2 linked regions of the Homo sapiens genome follow. The protein of the gene in region 2 purifies or fractionates together with the protein of the main gene of each other region. This does not show direct contact. Each region holds a gene or a part of one and is shown on either strand. Other genes may lie near its edges.

What was found. Proteins that work in one complex are often made in the same cells at the same time.
Region 1: the proteins of SFSWAP (region 2) and PAGE2B purify together in Homo sapiens (affinity purification with mass spectrometry; one large-scale study listed by BioGRID and IntAct). This does not show direct contact.

The regions. Positions count from the first base shown.
Region 1 is NC_000023.11:55,073,647-55,077,829, forward strand, and holds the start of PAGE2B (putative G antigen family E member 3), read left to right. Parts: upstream 1-1,383; 5' UTR 1,384-1,468; exon of another isoform or gene 1,469-1,610; intron 1,611-2,373; exon of another isoform or gene 2,374-2,387; coding exon of another isoform or gene 2,388-2,395; coding exon 2,396-2,479; intron 2,480-2,922; coding exon 2,923-3,031; intron 3,032-3,752; coding exon 3,753-3,878; intron 3,879-4,183.
Region 2 is NC_000012.12:131,791,090-131,794,589, reverse strand, and holds part of SFSWAP (splicing factor, suppressor of white-apricot homolog), read right to left. Parts: intron 1-3,500.

The sequences.
Region 1 (4,183 bases), on a different chromosome or scaffold from region 2:
TGCTTCTTCCTGTTCACGAGCATGGAATGTTTTTCCATTTGTGTCATCTCTGATTTCTTTGGGCAGTGTTTTGTAGTTCTCATAGTGGAGATTGTTCTCCTCCCTAGTTAGCTGTATTCCTAGGTATTTTATTCTTTTTGTGGCAATTGTGAATGGGATTGTGTTTCTGATTTGGCTCTGTGCTTGAAGGTAGTTGGTGTACAGAAACACTCCTGGTTTTTGTACATTAATTTTGTATCTTGAAGCTTTCCTGAAGTTGTTTATAAGATCAAGGAGCTTTTGGGCAGAGATTCTGGGATTTTCTAGGTATAGAATCACATGGTTTCCAAACAGATTGTTTGACTTGTGTGAAAAACATAGTGGAGTAGAAGCAAACACGTGTCAGCAATGGAATAGAAAAATAAAAGTGCCCATGAATAAATTTAATTTGAATGTGAAGAACTAATATGAAGCAAATAACACAGTCATTGTGTGGGATATGTTAAAAGACTTGAGGAATTGAGGAGTGGCTTTTTTTTGATAGAGAGATTCTAAAATAGGAAGATGGCTATTGTCCCAGAGTTAACATGTAATATAAAAATAATAACTAGTATCTCAACAGGAATATTTTAGCACCTGATCAAATGATTCTGAAGTTCATCTGAAAGACCAACGTGTCAGAATTGATAGAAAAGGAGAAATCAATGAGGGAGGGCAAGCATTATTTCACATTTCAAATATAATTTAAGCTACAGCAATTAAAATAGTGTAGTAGTGGTACAGGTATAAACAACTCAATGGAAGAAAATTAAAAGAAGAGAGTTACATACAAAATTGAGTGGGGATGTAGGTGATGATAAAAGAGCCATTTCAAAACAGTGGGTGCAACAGGGATTCAACAAATAATGTTGAGTTCCTACCACTTTAATTTTGTCCAGATGGATCAAAGATTTTGAACGTACAATAATGCAACCAAAAACTATGAATGTCTTATATTGGAATGGGTTAGACAATTGCAAGCATGACAGCAAACTCGTGAAGGAGGCAAGAAAATGATTTATGGAAGCGTATATAAAACAGATATTAAAATATTTAAGATTTATTTCTATGATGGTGAAGTTTTCTGAAACACATTATTAGAGTAACCTGGGGCTCATATTCTCCAAAGCCACTGGAAGTGAAAGAAAGGGTGGGCGGGGGAAAAAGAAAAGTGCTTTGCAAGTTCATTTTCGTTGTCAGGAGCGCTGGTGGTTTAGGTTCTCCACAGACGCAGGAAAACATCAGTCACGAGGCGAATGTCCCAGTCAGTGTGCATGCTGCACAGACCTGTTGCTGCACTTGTCTGTTGTTACGCATGTCTGTTGCTACACGTGTCTGTTGTTGCGCATGCGCCTTGCTGCCCGCCTTCTGTCCACACACAGCTCTGCAAGGAGAGTGTCTTCATTCTTTCCGCCATCTTGATTCTTTGTCACTGACCGAGACTCAGCCGGTAGGTCCGCAGAGCGGTCTTCCTGGGAATTTAGTTGTGGGTGAATGTGTGGAGGAGCCAGCTGGCTTTGGACAGGTCCTGCGGCACAGTCCGTGGCTTCCGAGGGAAAAGGGCCTCGCGGTCGTCGTCCGGCCCCTCCCAGGTCGGGATGCCACCGTGGGACTTGTCGTCGTGGCTGGGCTGGGACGAGGGACGAGGGAGGAAGGTGGGCCACAGAGGGGAGGGATCGCGTGAAGATGGGGCGAGTGCTGGGGGTGCTGTTAGAGGTGTCTGAGTCTCGAAAACTCCTGGAACCCTCTGAGAGAGGACAGTTTCCAGACTCCTCGGTAGGGACGCGGGAAGAGACCATGTGGTCAGTAAGGAAGGGGCCTGGGAACTGGGAACGCTGTGGGCCGGTGACTGTGGCCCCGAGGTCTGTAGAGTGCCTGGCAGAGGTGTCCCGTGAGGAGCATAACGTTCACTCTGTTTCACAATTTCTCACCTCCGCCATGGACGCCATGGAAGGAATGGGCGAGGCTGTGCTTTCCAACAAGACTTGATTTTGAGAGAGGTGTGGGGGTGAAATGGGCCTAGCAAATCAGAGTGGGACAAAAGCAGTAGTCATTTCAGTTTCAATTCTCTGCCCTTTTTTCCCCCAAATGTCTTCATGATGGAGAGTCTAATTGTGAAACCAAAACGCAGAAATGTCCTCTGTCTTTTGCTATGGCGTTAAGGGGATTTCTATGCCTCTTCGACTATGATACAAACAAATCTGTCCTTAGTTTGATTGGAAAGCGTGGGTACTTATCAATGCTCTGTGAATTACGTTGAAAATATTTTCAAAATTAAAAAAATACAAATCACCATTTTGCCATGGAATGTTCATATATATAGCTAAGTTCTTATACACTTTTTCCAAATAACAGTATTCTATTTTCAGTGGGAAATATGAGTGAGCATGTGAGAACAAGATCCCAATCCTCAGAAAGAGGAAATGACCAAGAGTCTTCCCAGCCAGTTGGATCTGTGATTGTGAGTCCTTTAACATTTGATGTTTCCTATTAACACAATTTATTTTAAGAAATATTTTTGAGCTAGTGTACACGCACTGATACAGGTGTTCCATGCTGATAAAAAATGATGATGGCATCTCATGAAGGAAACGTTGGTTCAGGAATATTATATTCTGGTGTTACCTGTATGGATATGGATATTTCTCTCTCTCTCTCTCTCTATATATATATATGTGTGTGTGTGTGTATATGTATATATGTATATATGTATGTATGTATGTATATATGTATGTGTATATATGTATGTATATACGTATGTATGTATATATACATATATGTATATACATATATATGTGTTTATATATGTTGGAAAAATGTCTTTAGATGTGTGATTCGATGCACATATGCATTTGTGTATTTATATTATTGACTTTTTATTCACACACACACTTACACCCTTAGGTCCAGGAGCCCACTGAGGAAAAACGTCAAGAAGAGGAACCACCAACTGATAATCAGGGTATTGCACCTAGTGGGGAGATCGAAAATGAAGGAGCACCTGCCGTTCAAGGTGAAGGGAGAGTGGAGAATAATGCTTATGGGTGGTGGAGGTCTATTTATGCATTGTATTTTATGACATACCAGTAACAGGAGGACAGAAAGCATTAGGAAGGAATCTTAAACATTTCCTACTGCTGCTGTGTGGAGGGGTGGGACAAGGACGCATAAAAAGCCACTAAGCTTTCCTACCACTTTGACGGAGGCTTTTTATTGATTGGGTATTTTCATGGTTGCCATAAACCTTTTTCCAGAGCTCCTGTATGCTTTGTTCAGCCATTTTCTGTTTTTTGTTGCTGTGGAAGAATGGCAGCTTGCAGCTTCCTAGTCTGCCATCTGTGGACACGTCATGTATTTTTTAAGAAACTTTTTAACACACCTTTATTGATGCTTCCTCATACCACGTAATATACTAAGTGCTGGAGATGTCAGTGCCAAATTTTTGCCTAAAGCTCATAGTCTAGTCAGATTGACTCAAACAAATCGCTGATTTAATGTGATAAGAATAAGAACAAATGAGTACAAAAGGGACAAGTAAGTTGTCTAGGGCCAGCCTTGGGAAAGGAAAGGGCAATGTTTGAACATCTCTGCTTTCCTGTTTTCCTGGCAGCAGATTCCTGAAATAATTAGCCTACAGGTTTTTACTTCATAATGATGAGGGAATAAATATTATCATTTCCTTGTTCATAGTTCATGTTTTAATTTGTAAACTGATGACCTTTTTATCTTTTAAGGGCCTGACATGGAAGCTTTTCAACAGGAACTGGCTCTGCTTAAGATAGAGGATGAGCCTGGAGATGGTCCTGATGTCAGGGAGGGGATTATGCCCACTTTTGATCTCACTAAAGTGCTGGAAGCAGGTTTGTTATTCATTTAAGATGCAAACTATTGTATTTCTATTTTCACAGTATTTTGTGTGACACAGAGGTAAAATTACTGCTACTTTAATATCATACTTCACGTCTGAAGGTTCTTTGAATGTAGTTCAGACCCCAAATGGCTGCCTTACACACTATCAGGGATAGAGGGCCAGGTGTGGTGGCTCATGCTGTTAATTCCAGCACTTTGGGAGGCCGAGACAGAAAGATCACTTGAGGCCAGGACTTCCAGAGATGGAGAAAAATTGGGTCAAAGCTAATTGGATTACGATATGAAAGATATGAAA
Region 2 (3,500 bases):
CACGCTATGTCTGTGTTTGTTTGTTGGTTTGGCTTCTTGGTTTTCTGTTGTTTGTTTCTCAGTTTCCCTCTGTTGCCCAAACTGGAGTGCAGGGGCATAATCCCTGCTCACTGTAGCCTTGACCTCCCAGGCTCCAGTGATCCTCTTGCCTCAGCCTCCCAAGTAGCTGGGACGACAGGCAGACGCCACCACAAATGGCTAATTTTTTTTTTTTTTAAGTAGAGATGGGGGTCTCTACCAAAAAAAAAAAAAGCCTGCAAATCCTGGGCTCAAGCAATCCTCCTGCCTTGGCCTCCCAAAGTGCTGGGATCACAGGTGTGAGCCACTGTGGCTGGCCTGTGTCTGGCTGCTTTTGCTCAGCAAAGCATGTCTGAGACTCCTCCACGACGCAGGGTGATCCTCAATTTGTTCCTTTTACCGATGAATAGTATTACAGGACAGGACGCTACCATTATCTGTTGATTCATTCTCCTGTTAATAGAGATTTGGTTGTTTCCAGTTTTCGGTAATTATGAATCAAAGTGTTTTTGGTTAAATGTTGACTTTATAGAGGAGTTCACAGCTAGGAACAGGACAGCTGGTCAGGGAGTAGGTGTGTACTTAACGTCACAAGAAACTGCACACGTTTCCCAATCCAGTGTCTGAGAGCGCAGCCGCTGGGCCCGTGCCCACTCTCCCCCGAGCCCGTCCTGGTTTTTAGGGACGGGTGACCCCCGTCTAGTCCTGTCTCGTTGGTTGCATCAGCACGTCCCTGACTGGTGACTCATGCCGTTCCACATCTTTCCATGTGTGTACCGGCTATTTAAGAGATCCTTCTGTCAAGTCGGCTGGCTTCATCTGCCCCCTTCTAATTGGGTCCTTTGTCTTTTTGGTACTGACACAGGCTTTTGTCAGAGACACATGCAGCAAAGCCTGCGGCCTGCCTATTCATCTTCTTAACTGTGCCTTTTGAGAGAAGTTTTTAAACTTCAATGAAGTCTAATTGGTTTTTTCCTCTTATCAGAGGAGTTTCTACATCTTAAGGAATCTTTGCCACCCTCAAATTCATGAACATATTCTGTGTTTTCTTCAAAAAGCTTAATGGTTCTAGTTTTTGTTTAGATCTCTGATCCGCCCTGAATTAAATTTTGCATACAGCATGCAGTGCACTTTTTCCCCATTCCGATATCCAGCTGTTCATGCAAGTTTTGTTGGAAAGAGTTTCCTGGCTGGGTGCTGTGGCTCATGCCTGCAGTCACAGCATTTTCGGAGGCCAAGGTAGGAGGACTGCTTGAGCCTGGGAGTTCAACATCAGCCTGGGCAACATAGCGAGACCCTGTCTCTACACACAATAAAAAAAAATTAGCTGGGCATGGTGGTGTGTGCCTGTGGTCCCAGCTGAGGTGGGAGGATTCCTTGAGCCCAGGAGGCTGCAGTCAGCCGGGCTGAGTCGAGATCACACCACTGCTGCACTCCAGCTTGGGCAACAGAGTGAGACCCTGTCTCAAAAAAAAAAAAGACTTTCCTTTCTCTTTTTCCTCACTGAATCGCTGTGGCTGTGGTCCCGGCCCCCTGCCCTTTGGGTATGGAATTTTTTTTCTGTACTTTCTATTCCATCCCACTGCTCTATTGTATCCTCATGCTGACACCACACTGCCTTGGTTACTGTAGCTTTCTGGTAAGTCTTGAAATCCTGCTCTTTGTCAAGGAGGTTGTTTTGGGTCTCCCAGGTCATCTGCATTTCCACACACGCTTTGGAGTTTGTGTGCCAATTTCTAGAAAAGCCGTGGGAGCTCTGAGTGGGACTGCACTGCATCTCTGCGTCAACTTGTGGAGAACAGGAGTCTCAGTAATACTTAGTTGGCTAATATTTTGTGAAGTATTTTTGCATCTATGTTCTTGAGAGTCCTGGTCTGTGAACATATACTTATGGGCACACACAGCACTGGTCTGTGAACACACATGCATGTGCACCAGTACTGATCTGTGAACACACATGTGCACACACAGCACTGGTCTGTTAACACGCATGCACACCAGTACTGATCTGTGAACACACACGGGCGCACACACAGTACTGATCTGTGAACACACACGTATGCACACACAGTACTGGTCTGTGAACACACACGGGTGCACACACAGTACTGATCTGTGAACACACACATATGCACACACAGTACTGGTCTGTGAGCACACACATGCACACCAGTACTGATCTGTGAACACACACGGGCGCACACACAGTACTGATCTGTGAACACACACATATGCACACACAGTACTGGTCTGTGAACACACACGGGTGCACACACAGTACTGATCTGTGAATACACACATATGCACACACAGTACTGGTCTGTGAACACACACGGGCGCACACACAGTAATGATCCGTGAACACACACGGGCGCACACACAGTAATGATCTGTGAACACACACGGGTGCACACACAGTAACGATCCGTGAACACACACGTGCACACACACAGTACTGATCCGTGAACACACATGGGCGCACACACAGTAATGATCCGTGAACACACACGTGCACACACACAGTACTGATCCGTGAACACACACGAGTGCACACACTGTACTGGTCTGTGCACACACACGGGTGCACACACAGTAATGACCAGTGAACACACACGTGTGCACACAGTACTGATCCGTGAACACACACGGGTGCACACAGTACTGATCTGTGAACAGACAAGGGTGCATGTGCACACCCCCTCCCCCAAACACAGAATCCTTATCTGGCTTAGGTATGAGAGTTATGATGGACTCAAGAGATGAGATGGGAAGTGTTCCTTCATCTATTTTTTAAAAAAGAGTATCCCTTCTTTCTTTCTTTTTGTTTTTTGAGACGGAGTCTTGCACTGTCGCGGGCTGGAACGCAATCTTGGCTCACTGCAACCTCCGCCTCCCGAGTTCAAGTTATTCTCCTGCCTCAGCCTCCCAGGTAGCTGGGATTACAGACGCACACTACCACACCCGGTTAATTTTTTGTACTTATAGTAGAGACAGAGTTTCACTATGTTGGCCAGACTGGTCTCAAACTCCTGACCTCGTGATCCACCTGCCTCAGCCTCCTGAAGTGCTGGGATTACAGATGTGAACCATCGTGCCTGGCCCCTCCTTTCTTGAATGTTAGAATTCACTGGTGAAGCCATCTGGGACTGGAGTTTGGTGGAAAAGTTTCGTTTATTTTTCTTTGAGATAGAGTCTCACTTTGTCACCCAGGCTGGAGTGCAGTGGCACGATCTTGGCTCACTGCAGCCTCCGCCTCCCAGGTTCAAGCAATTCTCCTGCCTCAGCCTCCCGAGTAGCTGGGATTACAGGCACTTGCCACCACACCTAATTTTTATATTTTTAGTAGTGACGGGGTTTCACCATGTTGGCCAGGCTGGTCTTGAACTCCTGACCCCAGGTGATCCACCTGCCTTGGCCTCCTGAAGTGCTGAGATTACAGGTATGAGCCACCGCGCCAGGCCAGGTCTTGCTCTTTAATCCAC